Linked DNA regions of Homo sapiens: region 2 is linked to region 1. The links come from fine-mapping of genetic effects on gene expression. A gene starts in region 1. The other region holds a variant in brackets. All regions are shown on one strand. Distances are between the middles of the regions.

Region 1 (8,339 bases):
ACCTCCTCTTTAGTAAAAGGTCACTAAATCATATTTTTAGCCTAATAGCTTTAAAAAGGAAGTGAAATCTGAGGGCTATATGAGGATATAAAAGCAGCCTGTGAAATACCTTTAGTTTTAAACAAAAACTAACATTAACAAGTACAGCATATCTTGTTCTTTCACGGGGCCAGCAAATTGATAGTTTGGTTTTTTAAGTTACAAAAATAGGATGGGGTAATTATATCTACCAAACTCACAATAGGCTGTTCAATGGAGAGTAACACTGTAATTTTTCTTCAAAGACAGTAAATAGGAAGAAAAAGCCCCTAAATTCTGTAATATAAGGAAAAATTCCAAACCCTTGGGCGCCACTTACAGGCACTTTCACTGATTTCAGCTATCACCCTGAAAAAGAGGGACAAACTTAAAATCTTCTATTTAAATACGAGTATTATTTATTTATATAAATTCTAATTCAAAGTATATTTTCTACATTCAAAGATCAGAAGGAAATTCTAAAATTAAAAAAAAGATCACAGAACTCTCAAATATTTCAAAATCTTAGATTTTCCTCTTGGAAGTATGAATGTAACTTAACTGTCAAAAAAAAGTAAAACATAAAGTTCAATTGATATTTTATTGAGTTGGCTATAATTAAGGGTTTTTTTTCCTAAAACTTTAAATGGTAAGTAATAGTGTAGCATAACCAACATGCAATACAAAATATACACACTCAAATAAGATACAAGCCCTTTCCCCACAAAGTTTTATACGAACAGATTCAAATGAATTTCAACCCAATTGTTAAGAAAAAAAAATTCACTATATTTCATAAGGTTAGGGAATCAACATTTTACTATAAATGAAATCTTTACGTATGACATTTGGGATAAACCAACAGCATTCTGACTCGTAAAAATAATTTCTTTAAAAAAGATTATCCTTACAAGCCCATTATTTTCTTATACTGTGCAATTATAATCTACACCTTAAGCAAAGGGGAAAAAACCTCGGTTACAAAACGCAAATACTAAGCATGGATTACTTAGTCCCTAAATTCTATCTGCCTCCACCTTAGTCCTCTTATTTTGTGTCAAGAGACAACATTAAACAATTTCAGTACATTATTTTTACAGTGGATGCTCTTCTACTATATTCACAGCTCATTAAGAGTACTAGAATGCTGACGTTTGCTAAATTATTTATTGTATCCAAAAAGTTAGGTCTCAATAGATACAATTTCTTAAATTTGGGGTTAAAAATTTTTATCTGGAATTCATTTAAAGTAGAAGTTGCCTTCAAAGAATTATTCCAGTTAAGTTTTAATACAATCTGCACAGAAATGGGAAAACTATAGAGGTACATAACTCTTGTAAGAATAAATTACATGTACAAGTGCACACAAAACTGTATCAGTCACAAATCTCCTTTGGTCTCAGTAGTGCCATGGTACAGTGCGAAGCATATTTTTTAGTTCTTGGGGAGAGGAAGGGGACTTCCAAATACTAAATGGATCGTGATTTTAAGCAAATAATCAAATGCACAAAAAATGCCAGATCACTTTAGATAATGAATCCAAACCAAGGACTCCTACTGTCAAATTCGTCTCACAAAATGACACGCTTTCTTCTCATAATAAAGGTCAGGGAATTCTACAGGGCCACGAGGGACTATCACAAAAACATTTCCAGCAACTCAAAATACCCATCAAGACTTTGTACTTTGCATACGTTAATCAGGTTTTTAAAAAACAAACAAACAAGGATGTAGCTGTCACACTTAAAAGAATTTCCTTTAACATAAAAATTTCCAGTAGCCAAAAATGGGCGAGGCCAATAAACCGCTGGTCTAAATTACCTTACACATACTGTACTTCATATGCACCAGAAGACGCATCTGAGCCGAAGCCCACCGCACTGCGGCCCCTGGAATTCAGCGGGCGGCCCGCGCCAGGGCACCGAGCAGGAAGCACTGCACCCGCGCCGCAGTCCCCGGGCCAAGCCGGAGGGGCTGCGGGGAGCAGTCACCACTGCTTTGAAACTGAATGGCTGACACATCCGGTCCTGGCTCTTACACCACTCCGCCAAATGCAAACTTCAAAGGCCAAATTCAAACTCCAAACAGAAGTCACTCAAGTGACTTAGCAGTGCAGTTCGCATTCCCAGGAACACTCAAAGCCCCTTGGGGGCTGCAATTAGACAAACCGCACTTCCTAAAAGACTGCAAGCCTCCGCGAGTGTGCAGCCTCCCGCCGCACGGCTTTGACAGGCGTTACCGAGCCGTCCTCCTGGAGCCCTGCGGCCGGCGCTGGGGGCGCGCCGCCTGCGTCCGGGCCCAGCCCGCGGTATCTGCCTAGGGACTCGAGTCCCGGGCGGGCCGAGGGGCTCTGCCTGTCACGGCCGCTGGGACCTGCTACTTTCTCTTCGGTCCTCTCAGTCTCCCACCCGACCTCGGGCTTCTCACCCACCCCGCCCCTCTTCCGACCACCGCCCGCCTCAGGCTCGGGCCTCGCCCCCCAGTGCCTTTGCCCCGGGGACACCCGTCCGGGGGCGCCGCCGCAGGGCCGTGCCCCGCCCCCGGGCTCCTCGGAGAGCCCCGATTCCAGGAGTCCCACAAAGCCAGCCGTGGCCCCCTACACCTTTTCGCAACGGTTCCCCGCAGAGAGGCTCGCACGCCTGTCACATGTCTGCAAACAATAACAAACTCTTCCGCACGTCCCCGTCCGGTCCCCCAGGCTGGGTCCGGGGCGCCGCCCGACTCCGAAGGGGTCGGGGGGTGCTCAGGGGCGTAGGTCCCGGCGAGCGGCGCGTAGCCTCGCTGCGCTGAACCCCGGGACGCCGTGCATGGTGCCCGGGGTTCATTCATTGCCCTCTGCCCGCTCTCCAAGTCCCCGCCGCGACCCCGGCCGTGCTGCTCACCCGGCGGGGGCCGCTGCAGGAGACGGCTCGGCGGCGGGCGCCCGCTTCTCCCCGGGCTCGGCCGCTGCGGGACTCGAGGCGCCGCTGTCCGGCGCCGCCACCGACTCGGTAAGGTGGGCGCCGCCGCGGCTCGCGGCTCCGTGGGGCGGCGGCACCGCCACAGGCTGGAAGCCGGTCCCACTCCCCGCTGCGTCCGCGGGCTCCGGCGACGGGGAAGTCGAGGAGGCCGGCGGTGAGGCGGCAAGGAAGAGCGGCTGCTCAGGCAGCTGGTCCAGCTCCACACTCCGCACTTTGCGCAGCTGCCGCCGCCGCCAGTCCGCCCGCTCGCGGCCCCCGCTGCCCGCCTCCCGCAGCAGTCCCGCGGCAGCCGCGGGCGCGCTGCTCGCCTTGAGGGCTCCTCCGCCGCCGCCTGCCTCAGGGCTCGTAGCCCTGGCGCCCGGGAATCCCGACGACGAGGCGCGATTCCCCGCCGCCGCCGCCATTTTCTCTCGCGGGCTACATTCGCTCGGCCCCTGCGAGGGAGGGAGGGGGCGGGGAGAGCGCAGGGGGCGGGCACTGCGCCGCCAGCGTAAGGCCTCCTGCGCCAACTGCGTGAGCGCGGCCCGCCGGGCGCCTGGCCTGGACTGACCGACGGGCGGGCGCACTGGGTCCGGCCTGCGGCAGAGGTGTGGGTGGAGGGCGGCCCGGCGGCCGCAGGTGGGAGGGAGTGGGCTGTGCTCTCCGCCGGGCGAGAGGGCGGGCGGGCGAGGTGGACTGGGAGGCGGAGGGGGCGGGGGCGGAGGCGGAGGCGTGGGCTCCCGGGACTCTGCGCGCTGCACGCGCCGCGCCGCCAGGTAGTCCCGGCCGCACCGGCGACAGGAGGAGCCTTGGCGGCAGCGCTGCGCCGCTTCCTCTCGGCAATCTCGGCCCGGCACCGCGGAGCTCGCGGGAGGGGAGTTGCACCTTCCGAAAGAAAGAATTAGTTCCAACTTGGGTTTCTGGTGCTTGAAGGGGACGCAGGCGAGAGGGTTTACAGTCTGTCATTCCCACTGCCCTTTGCAGTGGGCGTCGGGGGACCCGGGCGTGGACCAGCCTCCCACCGACGCGCAGGTGGCGCCCGGGACCGTCGCCTGCTGCAAAGCGAAAGCAAGTCAACGTTCAGCAGACAGGCTGCCGCGGACCAGAAAAATAAAGTTTTGTTTGTGTTTTCTTTTGAAAAGAAAACATTCCTTCTCTATTGTCCCACCCCTGTCCCTGTGCTACAGATAACAAAACTTCAAAGTTTTCTGTAATACCTTACATCCTGAAGCTGCTGATTTGGGACAACTACCCCCTACCCTCACCAAGTCCCCACAGCCTCTGAGAAACCGTTGGGGCGAGGAAGGGAGGCGGGTGTCCCCGTCGATCTTTAGTTTTTCCTTGGCTGTCTTTGGGAAAGGCAGTCCCGTACAGAACCACATATAGCGCGTTTGGGGAGGGGACCAGCGCTGTGCCAGGAAGTGCTCGGTAATGTCACCCTCGGCCAGGTCCCGGCCCTCCCCGAATCCGATGCTTCTCGCCGCACGTCCTTCTTCCCTGCAGGGTCGGGCCACCGGCCGGGTTCCCTCTGTCCCCACTCCTGCAGGGCCTGGCTGCCCATCGCTGCGTTGTGAGTCCTCCTAGTCCCTGGACTCTACGTGAGAAGGTGCTTTGGGATGGAAAAAGCAACATTTACACGTTAATGATTTTTGACCTTTTGTCAACTGAGGAGAACTTCTGTGTTGCGTTTATTTCTTCCTTCCTTTCCTTTCCTCCAGCTGGTTTGTTTAGGATGGGGAATCTCCCAAAACCCAGGAGGAACGTCTATAGATTTACTTTGTGAAACATGATTAAGGAGGGGGGAGGTTGGGGTGGGGGGGTGCGGATTCTCACGGAGATAGTCTTGTCAGTCTTCACATATTTAGACAAAAGCCTGAACTATTTACAGAATAATTCCATTGACTTCTGGAGACTAGGTAAAATGAAAGCCCCTTTCCCAGATACAATGTTAACTGCGTAACCAGGTTAGATCAGAGGGGTTTTAAAAAGTCCAGATTTCATATTAGCTCAATGATTTGAAAACTGCTGTAACATCTCCCATAAGATAGTTTTAGATCGTTACACCCAACGGTACAAATTTTGAAAGTTCAGATAAATCTGTTAAAAATTAAGTCTACATTTAGGCTATAATTATATGCTATTTTAATGGCAGTCAAATGTATCATTCAAACCAAACAGTGGTTATTTCTCAGGTCTTCCTGGGTTGCCACACCCACCAAATCCTAAACTGAAACGGATAAACTTTCCTTGTTCCTATTTTGATCTAAAGACTTTTACATTTGCACGCACATATTCAGGTACCTGTAAGTGAGAAAAGTAAGTGGAAGACTTTAGCCAGAGTAGCAGAGTAAAAAGGAGATTCCAGCAAAACTGATTTTTGACTGTTTGTACAGTGGTTGAAACTGGGGATCAAAGGGAGAGGGCTACCCAGCGCAGCACTATGAACTAGCTACAATTCTCTCACTTCCTCCATCCACCACGTATTACCATGGAGAAACCTAAGTGTTGGTATTTTCCCACAGTTTTTGTTGCTTTGAGTCATTTTTTTCTTTGTTTACGTAAATATTCAGGTTGTCATTATGCATCTGCATATGGACACACTGATTTCTTAAAGAGAGAATCAAAGGACATGCTTAACTGAAAAGGGTGTTCTCCCTCTGCCATATGTTAATAGAAGTTTCTGAGTCTAATGCGTGATTAAGACTCTAGCTGGTTTTGGTGCTCTTCAGTCCTGCTATGTTACTGCAGAGAGGTGGATGTCAAATATCAAGTACTGTAGGCTCTGAATTCTCTTAATATGATTTATTTAATAACATTCAGGAGACTTGTATTTCTTCCAAGGTTGTTTCTAGACTGAAAGCTCCAATTCCTGTTTCCAAGCTCTTCATTTCCATCCTCACTGGGACGTAAACCTTGCAATGATTTCACGCATGCAATTTCATGGCAATTTCATGACCATTTCAATAACCTTAATACCAGTGCATTACAGATCACTGCCTCCACATAGTGCTTCTGGAAACTGCCTACATCACACTTCAGTTCCTGCAGCATATTCACGTTGAGGATCCACTTTGACACTGGGCATTTCCTCACTGTACATAAATATCACAAATATTAGAATGAGCAGACATAATATACATTGGGAGAAATATTTCAGCCTGTACATCATTCATCATATATTTAGTAAGCACCTACTGTGCATATGCAGGAATTTTTCTTCTCTGAGGATATTGTTTGTTGTTTTTCATTTCTACAAAAATGAATAAACAAAATATTCCAATCTACAGATATTTTTATTAGTGGGTATTTATCAGGCTGACTGGTAGAATTCCAGATCCATCAGTATGTGAATGTATTCACATATTCATGGCTGTTTGTGAGATCTATACCTCAGATAAACATAAAAGAATAATATAACCTTGAGAATAGGGTAAAAGCTGGTGTTCTTTCAAGCTTACAAATATTTATTATGGAATACTTGCAGGAGTGCTGGGGCTAGAATTTGGTTTCTGCATGTTCTTTCCAGACAACATACTTCCCAGGTGTTTTCAGATGTTCTAAGTCAGAAAATCCTGTCATCAGTGGGATAATTGGTTCCCTACAAGGGCACTGTAAATGACATTATAGTAGAAGGTCTCTTAACCAGCCTCCATTTAGCTGACTCATCCAGTAACAGATACCAGCCATTACTGTGTGGTGTACAACATGCAGAGGGATGATACAGCACAATAAATGCTCAGGCCAGCGGCTGGTGTGCACCTGCATACTTCTGTTCCCACTAGGTGAGTTATGGGTCCCATGAGAATCCATTGTGCTTGTTCCCAAACTTGATTCCACCTATTACAATGTTCCTTGTGAAATTTAATTAAATATTACACAATTGATTATTAAATTTAAAAACATGAGTATGTGTGTGCGAAAAGAAAGTTGTTCCAGTGAAAATGAAGTGAAATGCTTTGAGAGAAAAGTGATTGAAACTGGGGATCAAAGTGAGGCAGTACCCAGTGCAACACTTATCAACTAGTTAACAATTCTCTAACTTCTTCCCAGCCACCGCATACCACCACGGGGAAACCTAAGTGCCAGTCTTTCCAATAGTTTTTGATGCTTCTAGTCATTTTTATTTTAATCACTTATGTGAATATTCAGGTTGTCATTATGCATTTGCATATGGACACACTGATTTTTTAAGAGAAAAATGATCAGAGGACATGCTTAATTGAAAGGGTGTTCTTCCTTTACCATATGTTAATAGGAAGTATTTGAGGCGAGGCACTGAAAAAATCTGTCAAATTAGTTGTGGGTATGACCATTATGAAAGATTGGGAAGAATTTACTTTGCAGGTATCTATCAGTAGTCACTTTAAAAAAACTAAAACTGAAAATTGTAGATGATGTGAAAGATACATGGAACTCTAAACGGTGAACCCACATTTTAAAGACTAAAGACTTACAGCCAAATATTGACCAAAAAAACCCCAAACCAACCAAAACAAAACACTGTTGTTTATATGTTTTAAGCTAAAGTAAAATACTTAAGAGATACGTATGATTCCCTCTTATTAATAAACCTTCTAAACATTTTGCATGTATTTGCATGTTCTTAAAATCAGAAATTAATTTTTGTAATAAATAATGAAAAGTACTTGGGATTTTATATTTAAGAACACAACTACAACTTATTAAATTTAATTTGCCTCAGAGTAAGCAAAATTCTTCTCACTTTACAATCTTGCACTGATTCTCTGAATTCTTTGAATGGCCATCGTAGTTGCTGTTTTTTGATGCATGCTGAGATACTCTTTTTCCATTTGACCTTTGTGGCTTAGTGAGGGCTATCATTTTTGCAAACAATATTTGAAGGGTTCATACATTTTCCCAAGATCCTCCTGTAATACTCAATTGCTTTTTTTAGACTAGTGTCCTTGTCAGTTTTTTCTTCCTTTTACCAACTTCCTGGTCCAACTCTGCTGAATCCTGCATTCACAAGGCTTTGCATGTGACCTGAGCAGTTCAGGACCACTTTCATTGGCTCTGTTCACTTCTGCATCTTTTGCAACATTTGCACCTTCACTTTGCAATTGATTTCCATTGTTTTATGGCCAAAGCTGCTATAAAGAGGTATACAAAGTTGGCATGGGGTTGGGCACAGTGGCTCACGCCTGTAATCCCAGCACTTTGGAAAGCCGAGACAGTAGGGTTACTTGAGGCCTGGAGTTTGAGGCCAGCCTGGGTGACATAGTGAGACCCTCATCTCTACAAAAATTAAAAAAAAAATTAGCTGGGCATGGTGGCACACACCTGTAGTCTCAGGTACTCAGGAAGCTGAGATGGGACGGTGGATTATGCCCCGGAGTTCCAGACTGCAAGGTGCATAATCAC
Region 2 (8,339 bases), 90 kb before region 1:
TGACAGATAAATACGTTGGTATCATTTCCTCTATTCTTTGCCTGAGAGTGAGGTTGGATCCTAAACTATTGAAATTGAACGGCTCAGATCTAATAAAAACTCAGCCAAGGCCGGGCGCAGTGGCTCACGCCTGTAATCCCAGCACTTTGGGAGGCCGAGGCGGGTGGATCCCCTGAGGTCAGGAGTTCGGGACCAATCTGGCCAACATGGCGAAACCCCGTCTTTACTAAAAAAGAACAAATACAAAAATTAGCCGAGCGTTGGTGGCACGTGCCTGTAGTCCCAGCTACTCAGGAGGCTGAGGCAGAAGAATCGCTTGAACCTGAGAGACGGAGGTTGCAGGGAGCCGAGATCCGCCACTGCACTCCAGCCTGGGTGACAGAGTGAGATCCCGTCTCAAAAAAAAAAAAAATTCAGCCAATCGCCAGTAGCTGCGGGACTAATTTGTTCTATTCTGAAAGAAATAAAGAGAAAGAGTATCTACCAATGTCTCTATTTCGTTCATATCATATAGAATGTTAGCAAACTCTAGAGGCTTTCTCTCAGACTCTGTGTTTGTTTGATAATTTGGCATAATCTAGATTTACCTGACTTGCTAAATGGAGTCAATTCAGTTCCAGGATGTATTAATAAGTGGCATACAAGAAAGTTTCTTTATAGTCTCCAAACTTAACAAAGAACCCAAAAGAACTAGTTTAATCTTTACCTATGGTAATGTACTTGTCTAAAAAAAGAAAAAAATCAGTTTTTGTATATTTTTACAGTTTTTTTATATTTATGGTATTAAAATTAAATTTTGGTTAGCTAAGTAATTAATGAAAACCTTCTTTTTCTAGTTTCTTAAAGTAGGTTATTAGGTCACTAATTTTAATCTTTTCTTCTTTTCTAATGGAAGCATCTAAAGTTATACAAATAGAAACATGGTAGCTAAAGCTCAAGTCACCCTTAACCAAACACCGTACCTTGTACTTCCACCAATCCTGGTACTTGGCGCTTCTCAGAAGTTATCAGACGGGTGTGTTTTCTGCCAGTTTTATTTTTATGTATTTACATACCCGCGTATGTTTTTATAGAAAATACATAGTATTTTGTGTGAGTATTGTTAAAATATTATAAGGATCCACAACTTATTTGATTTCCTCAAAAATACATCTTGAAGATCTACCCATATTGGTTTAAGTCTACTGCATTCTTCTATTTTTGAGGTTTTGCCTTCAAGTTTAATATTTACTGTAGTTTTCTAGTAGGTATGTATACTTTATGAAGTTTTTTAAAGTTCTATTTTTGACTTTCCAAAAATTTTTATTGTTTTAAATTTTAAATGAATGATAAATATCAAATGCTTTTCTCTGCTTATTGAGATGACCATATAGTTTCTATTCATTTATTCATGTAGTGAATGATGACACATTGTCAAATGTTGACCGTCCTTGGATTTCTGACATAACTACTCAGTTATGAGTACCTCTTTGGTCAGATCCTGTAGGTTTTAATATATGCTATTGTCATCCCACATTTATTTTGAAGTATGTTTTAAAATTTTTTAGATAGAATTTGCCTGTGAAAACATCTGGGCTTGTAATTTTCTTTGATAATAAATTCAACTTATTTTAAAGATATAGGGCTATTCATAATGTCCGTTTCATCTTGTGTTGTTTGGTAAGTTATATTTTTATGGAATTTGTTCATTTTGTCTAAGTTGCCAAATATCTTGGTATAAAGTTGTTTATAAATACTGTCTTACTAACCTTTTAATGTCTGTATGATCTGTTGTAATAGCCCATTTTTGTTCCTGATTTTGGTGATTTGTGTTCTCTTCTTCATCATTGTAATTGAGGGTTTGTCAATCTTTTCAAAGAAACAGCTTTTGGCTTTATTACTTTTCCCTGCTTATTTTTTATTTTGTTGACCTCTGTTCTTATCTTTTTTCTCTCTTTTTTTATTTTTAGTGATGGGGTCTCACTGTGTTGCCTGAACTGGTCCCCAAGTGACCCAACTGCCTATGCCTTCCAAATAATTGGAATTACAGGCATAAGTCACCGTGACCAGTCATATTCTTATCTTTATTATTTTATGTTTTCTACTTAAACATAAAGTAGTTTATTTTTCTCTTCTTTTTCTAGTTTCTTAGAATAGAATATTAGGTCACTGATTTTGGTCTTTCCTTCATTTCTATAGAAGCATCTAAAGTTATAACTATCCTTCCAAACATTACTGTAGCCAAATCTCAGGAATTTTGATATGTTGTATTTTCATTATCATTCAGTACAAAATATTTTTAAAATTTCTTTGTTATTTATGTTTTTAATCCATGAAATATTTAGAAATGTGTTTTTAATTTCCAAATATTTGGGATTTCTAGATATCTTATTGTAACTGGTGTTTAGTTTAATTCTGTTGTGTCAGAAAACATGAATGATTTCAATTCTTTTAAATTTATTGACTTGTTTTGTGTCCCAGCATGCACTCTATCTTGGTGAATATACCGTGTTCAGTTGAAAGGAGTGTATATTCTGTAGTTGTTGGGTTTAGGGTTCTATAAATATTAAGTAGGTCATTGGTTCATAGTGTCTTTTAAATCATCTGTCTTTATTGATTTACATAACTTTTAAATACAGATGAATGAAGAATGACAATTTGACAGACAGTTTTATAATATATCATAGATAGCAAGCAAAAGATTGGCCACGATGGGCATGGAGATATGCTGCTATCCAAAATTACCCTCTTCTTCTGACTCTTTTTCCCACTTCCTGTTGTTTCCAGTTTCCCCAAATACTCTACCCAATTGAATATAAGAATGTATGTGCTGTGTTTTCCATTTAAAACCCATTTATGCTATAAATCACAAAACTACTGTGTAGGAAAAATGTTCTTTTTTGAGACAGGGTATAGCTCACTGCAGCCTCCAAACTCTTGGGTTCAAGCAATCCTCCCTCCTTATTCTCCCCAAGTAGCTGGGATTACAGGCATGCACCACCATGCCTGGCTAATTTTTTAATTTTTAATTTTGTAGAGATGGGGTCTCACTATGTTGCCCAGGCTTGTCTTGAACTCCTGAGCTCAATCGGTCCTCCTGCCTTGGCCTCCCAAAGTGCTGAGATTACAGACGTGAGGCACTGCACCTGGCTGGTAAAATCATCTTTAACATCAGTGTCCTAAATATTATAAATAAGGCATGTATGCCTGGACAGATTGTAACTTCCAGAGTTCAAAATGAGATTAACTTGATTTTTAAATAATTTATTGAACTTCTATTATGTCCCGAGCTCTAGTGCAGGAGACAGATACTAAGTAAACACATAAATAATGTCAGACAGTGATAAATGCAATAAAGAAAACAAGGCAGGATAATGAGAAGAGAGTGGGCTGGATATCTTATGTAGCCTGTCCAGATCCACTGTCCACACCCTGGGGGATTGACTGGCTTGCACATCAACAAGGTCCCTCATCTTCCTGCTTCCAAGTGGATTCAACCAGTGGAGAGCACTGGCAGGAAACTGCAAGAAGAGAGGAGAGTGAGGTGCTGGTCTCTGTGTACTGGCTGTATTCCAACCTAAGGTCCTCTCCATGTAGTCTTATGTGTTTCCGGGTTTCATTCAAGCCTATGGATGGTAACAGCACTCTATTATTGCCAACTCCACAGTTCTGTGTACTATCCTTGTGGTTTCCCTTCATTCTGTCCATGCTGTTACACAATTATTTTCAAATGTCTTAATTTGTGTGTGTCATCTGTTTCCTGCTGGGACCCCACTCTCTTTATGTGGGTCACATGGTGTGGGATTAGGGGTATCAATTTTCGATAGGGTGATGACATGAATGGCTGAGACCTGAATAAGAAGGCAACGAACTTGAAAATATCCACGGGGAGATTCTCCCAATGGGAAATGCAAAGGCACTGAGGTAGTGATATGGTTTGGATGTTTTTATCCCTCCAAATCT[C/T]ATGTTAAAATGTGACCTCCAGTGTTGGAGATGTGCCTAGTGGGAGGTGTTTGGGTCATGAGGGCAGATCCCTCACCTATGGCCTGGTGCTGTCCTCACCTCAATGAGTGAGTTCTTGCTGTGTGAGTTCATGCGAGAGCTGGTTGTTGAAAAGAGCCTGGCATCTCCTCTCTCCCTTGCTCCCTCTCTCTGTATGTGATACACCAGCTCCCCCTTTGCCTTCGGCTATGATTGGAAGCTTCCTGAGGGCTTACCAGGAGCAGATGCTCCAGCGCCACACTTCTCATACAGTTGGCAGAACTGTGAGGCAAAATAAACCTCTTTTCTTTATAAATTATTCAGTCTCAGGTGTTCCTTATTGCAATGCAAATGGACAAGCATGGGTGGGGAGGAGCTTCACATGTTCAAGCAGGGAAAATAAGGTTATGGAACAGGGTAAGTAAGAAAAAGTGAAAGATGAAGTCAGGGAGAAAGAGAAGATGCCAAGTCCTGTAGGTCCTGGTGAGGAGTTGGGATTCTTAGTGTAATGGGAAGCCACTGGAGGGTTTTAAGCAGGAGGGTAATAGGATCTGATTCATGTTTTAAAAAGATCACTTTGGATATTATGTGGTGAAAAGGTGGGCAATCACCACACCGGTAAGGCCAATTAGGAGGTGAATACAGTAGTTTAGGCAGAGATGATGGTAGCTTAGACTAGAATGGTAACTGTGGAGATGGAGAGGGTGGATGGATTAGGATTCTATTTTGGAGGAACTCACAGGACTTGCCAATGGATTCGATATGGGAAGGTGAAGTTTTGAAATGCCTCCAAGAAATGTCAAGTATCTAGTTGAATATTGTCACATCTGGAGCTCCGAAGCCATAGCTGGTGATAGAGTCTTTAGCCAGAGCCCTGGATGAGATCACCTAGGAAGAAAAGGGGGATGGCAAAGAACATAGATTGAGCAGTGACCATGAAGTCACCTGTCAATAAATGCAGAACCCTCATAACTTGGTCAAAAGCAGTTTTGGTGATAGGTTTGAGTGTGTTTGAGTGCGTTGAGAAGCAAATGTGAGGTGAGGAATGGGAAACAAGTGTGTGTGTCTCTTTCAGTAAATTTTATGGAAAGAGAAGAAGAGAAATGGAGCCAAAGGCAGAGAATAATTCAGTAAGATAAAAGATCTCGTAGCATATTTGTGTGTTGATGGGAATGACCCAACACAGAGAAGGAAAATGTGGTGTGTGTGTGTGTGTGTTTATTGGGTGTCAGGGGGACAGAGGAAGTAGCAGGCACAACTTTGATTTCACAATTCTGTGCTGGAAGAGAGATAATAGTTAGAGATAGTGGATATTCTGTAGGCTATTTGAATAGCTATGTAGTCTAATGTGGGTAACATAACTGGCAAATATTTATTCATTGAAAACTGTATGCCTAGGTACAACTTTAAAAGATTACAGTCTACTTGGGAAAACATATAATTTCTAAAAATTAAATATTAATTACCATAGAATTTCAGTGTGAGCTACTGGAGTTGGGGAGTGCTTCAAGGAGAAATAAGTAGAAGAGAAGTGGAAGGGATTAACAGAAGCCAGCAATTCTCAAATGTGGCCTGGGGACCCTGGGGGTCCCTAGGATTTTTTCTGGGCTCTATGAGGTCAAAATTATTTTCTTAATCATACTAAGTTGTATTTGTCTTTACTCTCATTCTTTCTTGAGGGTACAGTGGAGTTTCCAGAGGTTACATGATGTGTGATAAAACAACAGATTGAATGCACAAGCAGATATGAGGATCCAACTGCCTTGTATTAAGTTAGAAATTACATAGATTTGGCCAGGCACAGTGGCTCACGCCTGTAATCCCAGCACTTTGGGAGGCCAAGGCGGGCGAATCCCTTGAGGTCAGGAGTTTGACACCAGCCTGGCCAACATGGTGAAAACCTGTCTCTATTAAAAATATAAAAATTAGCTGGGCATGATGGTGGGTGCCTGTAATCCCAGCTACTCGGGAGGCTGAGGCACGAGAATTGCTTGAACCCGGGAGGCAGAGGTTGCAGTGAGCTGAGATGGCGCCACTGCACTCTCGTCTGGGTGACAGAGTGAGACTCCCTCTCAAAAAAAAAAAAAATTATATAGATTTGAAAAAAATATAAAACATGCCACTCTTCCTATTTTTTGGGGGGTGAAATATAGCTATTTTCATAAAGATATGTTATCTGATTTAACATGTAATAAGTTTTAATAGTTATTTCTAGTGAATTAATGCATTTTTATGTATTTATCAGTTTTAATATTGATACAGTAAATAGCAGCTATTAACCACATGAACAAAAGGTCCTTGGGGGCTTCTGATAATTTTTAAAAGTGTAATGGGGTCTGAAGACAAAAATATTTGGGAAATTGAGTGTTAGAACCACATATTGTGATTCAAAATTTTGAGAAGGAAAGTATGTGACACTTCATTGAATGTTGTAGTTAATACCAGTTCTATGAATTATAGTAGTATGTTACATATTGATGATATTAGACAAAGTATTTTAAAATAATTTTGTGCTGCAGGACCTAAAATATTGCATAAAAAGGAGGAGAAAATGATCTCTGCTAGTCTTTGTATGAATTAGCAAAAGGCACCTTTTCCTTTGGCCACTTTACTGCCATCGACTGTAAAAAAATGTAATAAATATACAAATCTATTAGGACTATACTGTGCAGCATGCTCCATATAGGTATGTAGTACACCAGCTAGTTTTGGCAGTCTTGGGAATCGACTGGAAGGTTCTGTGGCAGCACTTCTTGACTGCTCTGAGAACAAAAAGTTTGAAAACCACTGGTGTGAGGGAAGGTGCAGAGGTGGGGTGGAACACAATGGATTCAGAGAGCAGGAATGTAACGAAAGGAGTAGAACAGAAATTTTGTATTACGGATAGTAGGAAATAAAGATTTAGGCAGAATAAGGTCAGACCATTAAAAAACATGGACATTTGAGGTAGTCAGCAGTAGATAGTCATTGAATGTTCTAGTAGCAGAGTACTAGCTGGAAATAGAGTTTGAAAAGCTCAGAGGAACAGTAGTTGGCAGGATGCATGGATGGATAGATGCATGGATGGATATGGATGGATGGATGGACAGATGGATGGATGGATGGATGGATGGATGGATGGATGGATGGATGGATGGTTGGATGGATGGATGGATGGATGAATGGATGGATGACCCAGCCAGCTGAGAGTAGAGTGGTTCTGAGAACAAGAGACCAGGAAAGGGCATCAAGTATCTTGCTACAGCCTCTCCTTTTGTTGTAGACTGTTAGGAGCGGGTAGAGGGACTAGGAATACCCTGTTATGCAATAGATAAGCATAGAATCTAGGTTTTAGAATGGAAAAATGCAACTCTTAGTGATAGTTTTGAGTTTTTTTCAGTATTCTAAGGGGGAACACTGAGATTTCTGCTCTATTCCTGAGGAAGGGGTGAGATAACCTTTGATTTTCAGATATCTGGCAGGCAGTGCAAATTAAAAGTTTTACTCTGCTGCCCTCTTCTGGAGGTTGCATAATTGCCCAAATAATTCTTCCACGTTGTTCCCTTCACTTTTGCTCCTAGACAGACTTCTGGACAAAGTAGGCTATGCACATCATCTCCATGACCATGCTTGCCCAGCTATGATCATGTTTCCTTCTAGTCGGCTTCACTGGAATGGTCCTTGCCATTCACCTTGTGAGACTTAAGTTCTTATCTTACCTGACGTCTGTGGCTTTTGAAATTACTGACCTTTCTTTAAAACATTCTCCTCTCTTGATTTCCCTGACCCTGTGCGTTTCTAGTTTCTGAAGATGAGCTCTTGTCTCCTTTATCTATTCTGCTTCTTGTCTATGCCTTAAATCTTGGTCTTCATCGGGGTTCTGGTCTTGGTTTTTCCTCACTGAACATATTCTCCTGAGTATTCTCCCCCGTTTCCCTTGTGACTCATTGTGGTAGATGCTGTAGAGTTGCCTGCTTGATGTCCATTCTTCTCAGACTTCCTTATAGCTAGGGAGTTCTAGTCAAATGAAATGTGAGTGAAAATCTCGTAAGCATTTTAAGGAAAGTTTCTGTCTTCCTGACACAGGCACTACCTTTTTATTCTCCTTTTTCTTTCCCTGATTGTAGATTGGAGATCAGAGTTGGAGCCTGAGGGTGAAAGCCTCATGCTGAGAAGAGTGGAGCGGGAAGATAAAGCATGGCAACATTGATGACACCCTAGGCCTAATACACCAGCCCTGACCTGCTTACCTTCTCTCATTTGTAGGCTATGTAGTCCAGTCACTTTTACGTGCAGCTGAGTACAACCCTAAATGATATATCAATCGCTTCAGTGACCATTTATATGTCAATAGCTTGCACATTTATTATTTGCAACCAAAGTATCTCTGGAGGTACTCA

Direction of the effects. Alleles are on the strand shown, and positions count from the first base shown. SD is a standard deviation of normalised expression in the study named.
With allele C in place of T in region 2, the expression in regulatory T cells of the gene that starts at base 3,407 in region 1 is lower (large effect, 1.4 SD a copy in Bossini-Castillo 2019).

What was found. PIP is the estimated chance that this variant, and not a neighbour inherited with it, causes the effect. A credible set is the group of variants that fine-mapping cannot tell apart.
Region 2: its variant is the best candidate, but not a certain one, in a credible set for the expression of MAP3K1 in regulatory T cells (Bossini-Castillo 2019, PIP 0.90).

What each region holds. Positions count from the first base shown.
Region 1 is chr5:56,810,617-56,818,955 of GRCh38, reverse strand. MAP3K1 (mitogen-activated protein kinase kinase kinase 1) reads right to left here and starts at 3,407. Exons shown (of 20, transcript NM_005921.2): 1 at 2,901-3,407. The coding sequence starts at 3,382. RefSeq lists silencers at 2,310-2,549, 2,730-2,849, 2,920-3,689 and enhancers at 1,775-2,598, 4,050-4,179.
Region 2 is chr5:56,900,143-56,908,481 of GRCh38, reverse strand. No RefSeq gene overlaps it. Among named protein-coding and RNA genes, the nearest start is that of SETD9, 5.3 kb to the left of the region's middle. The variant C/T (reference allele first, on the strand shown) is at 3,943.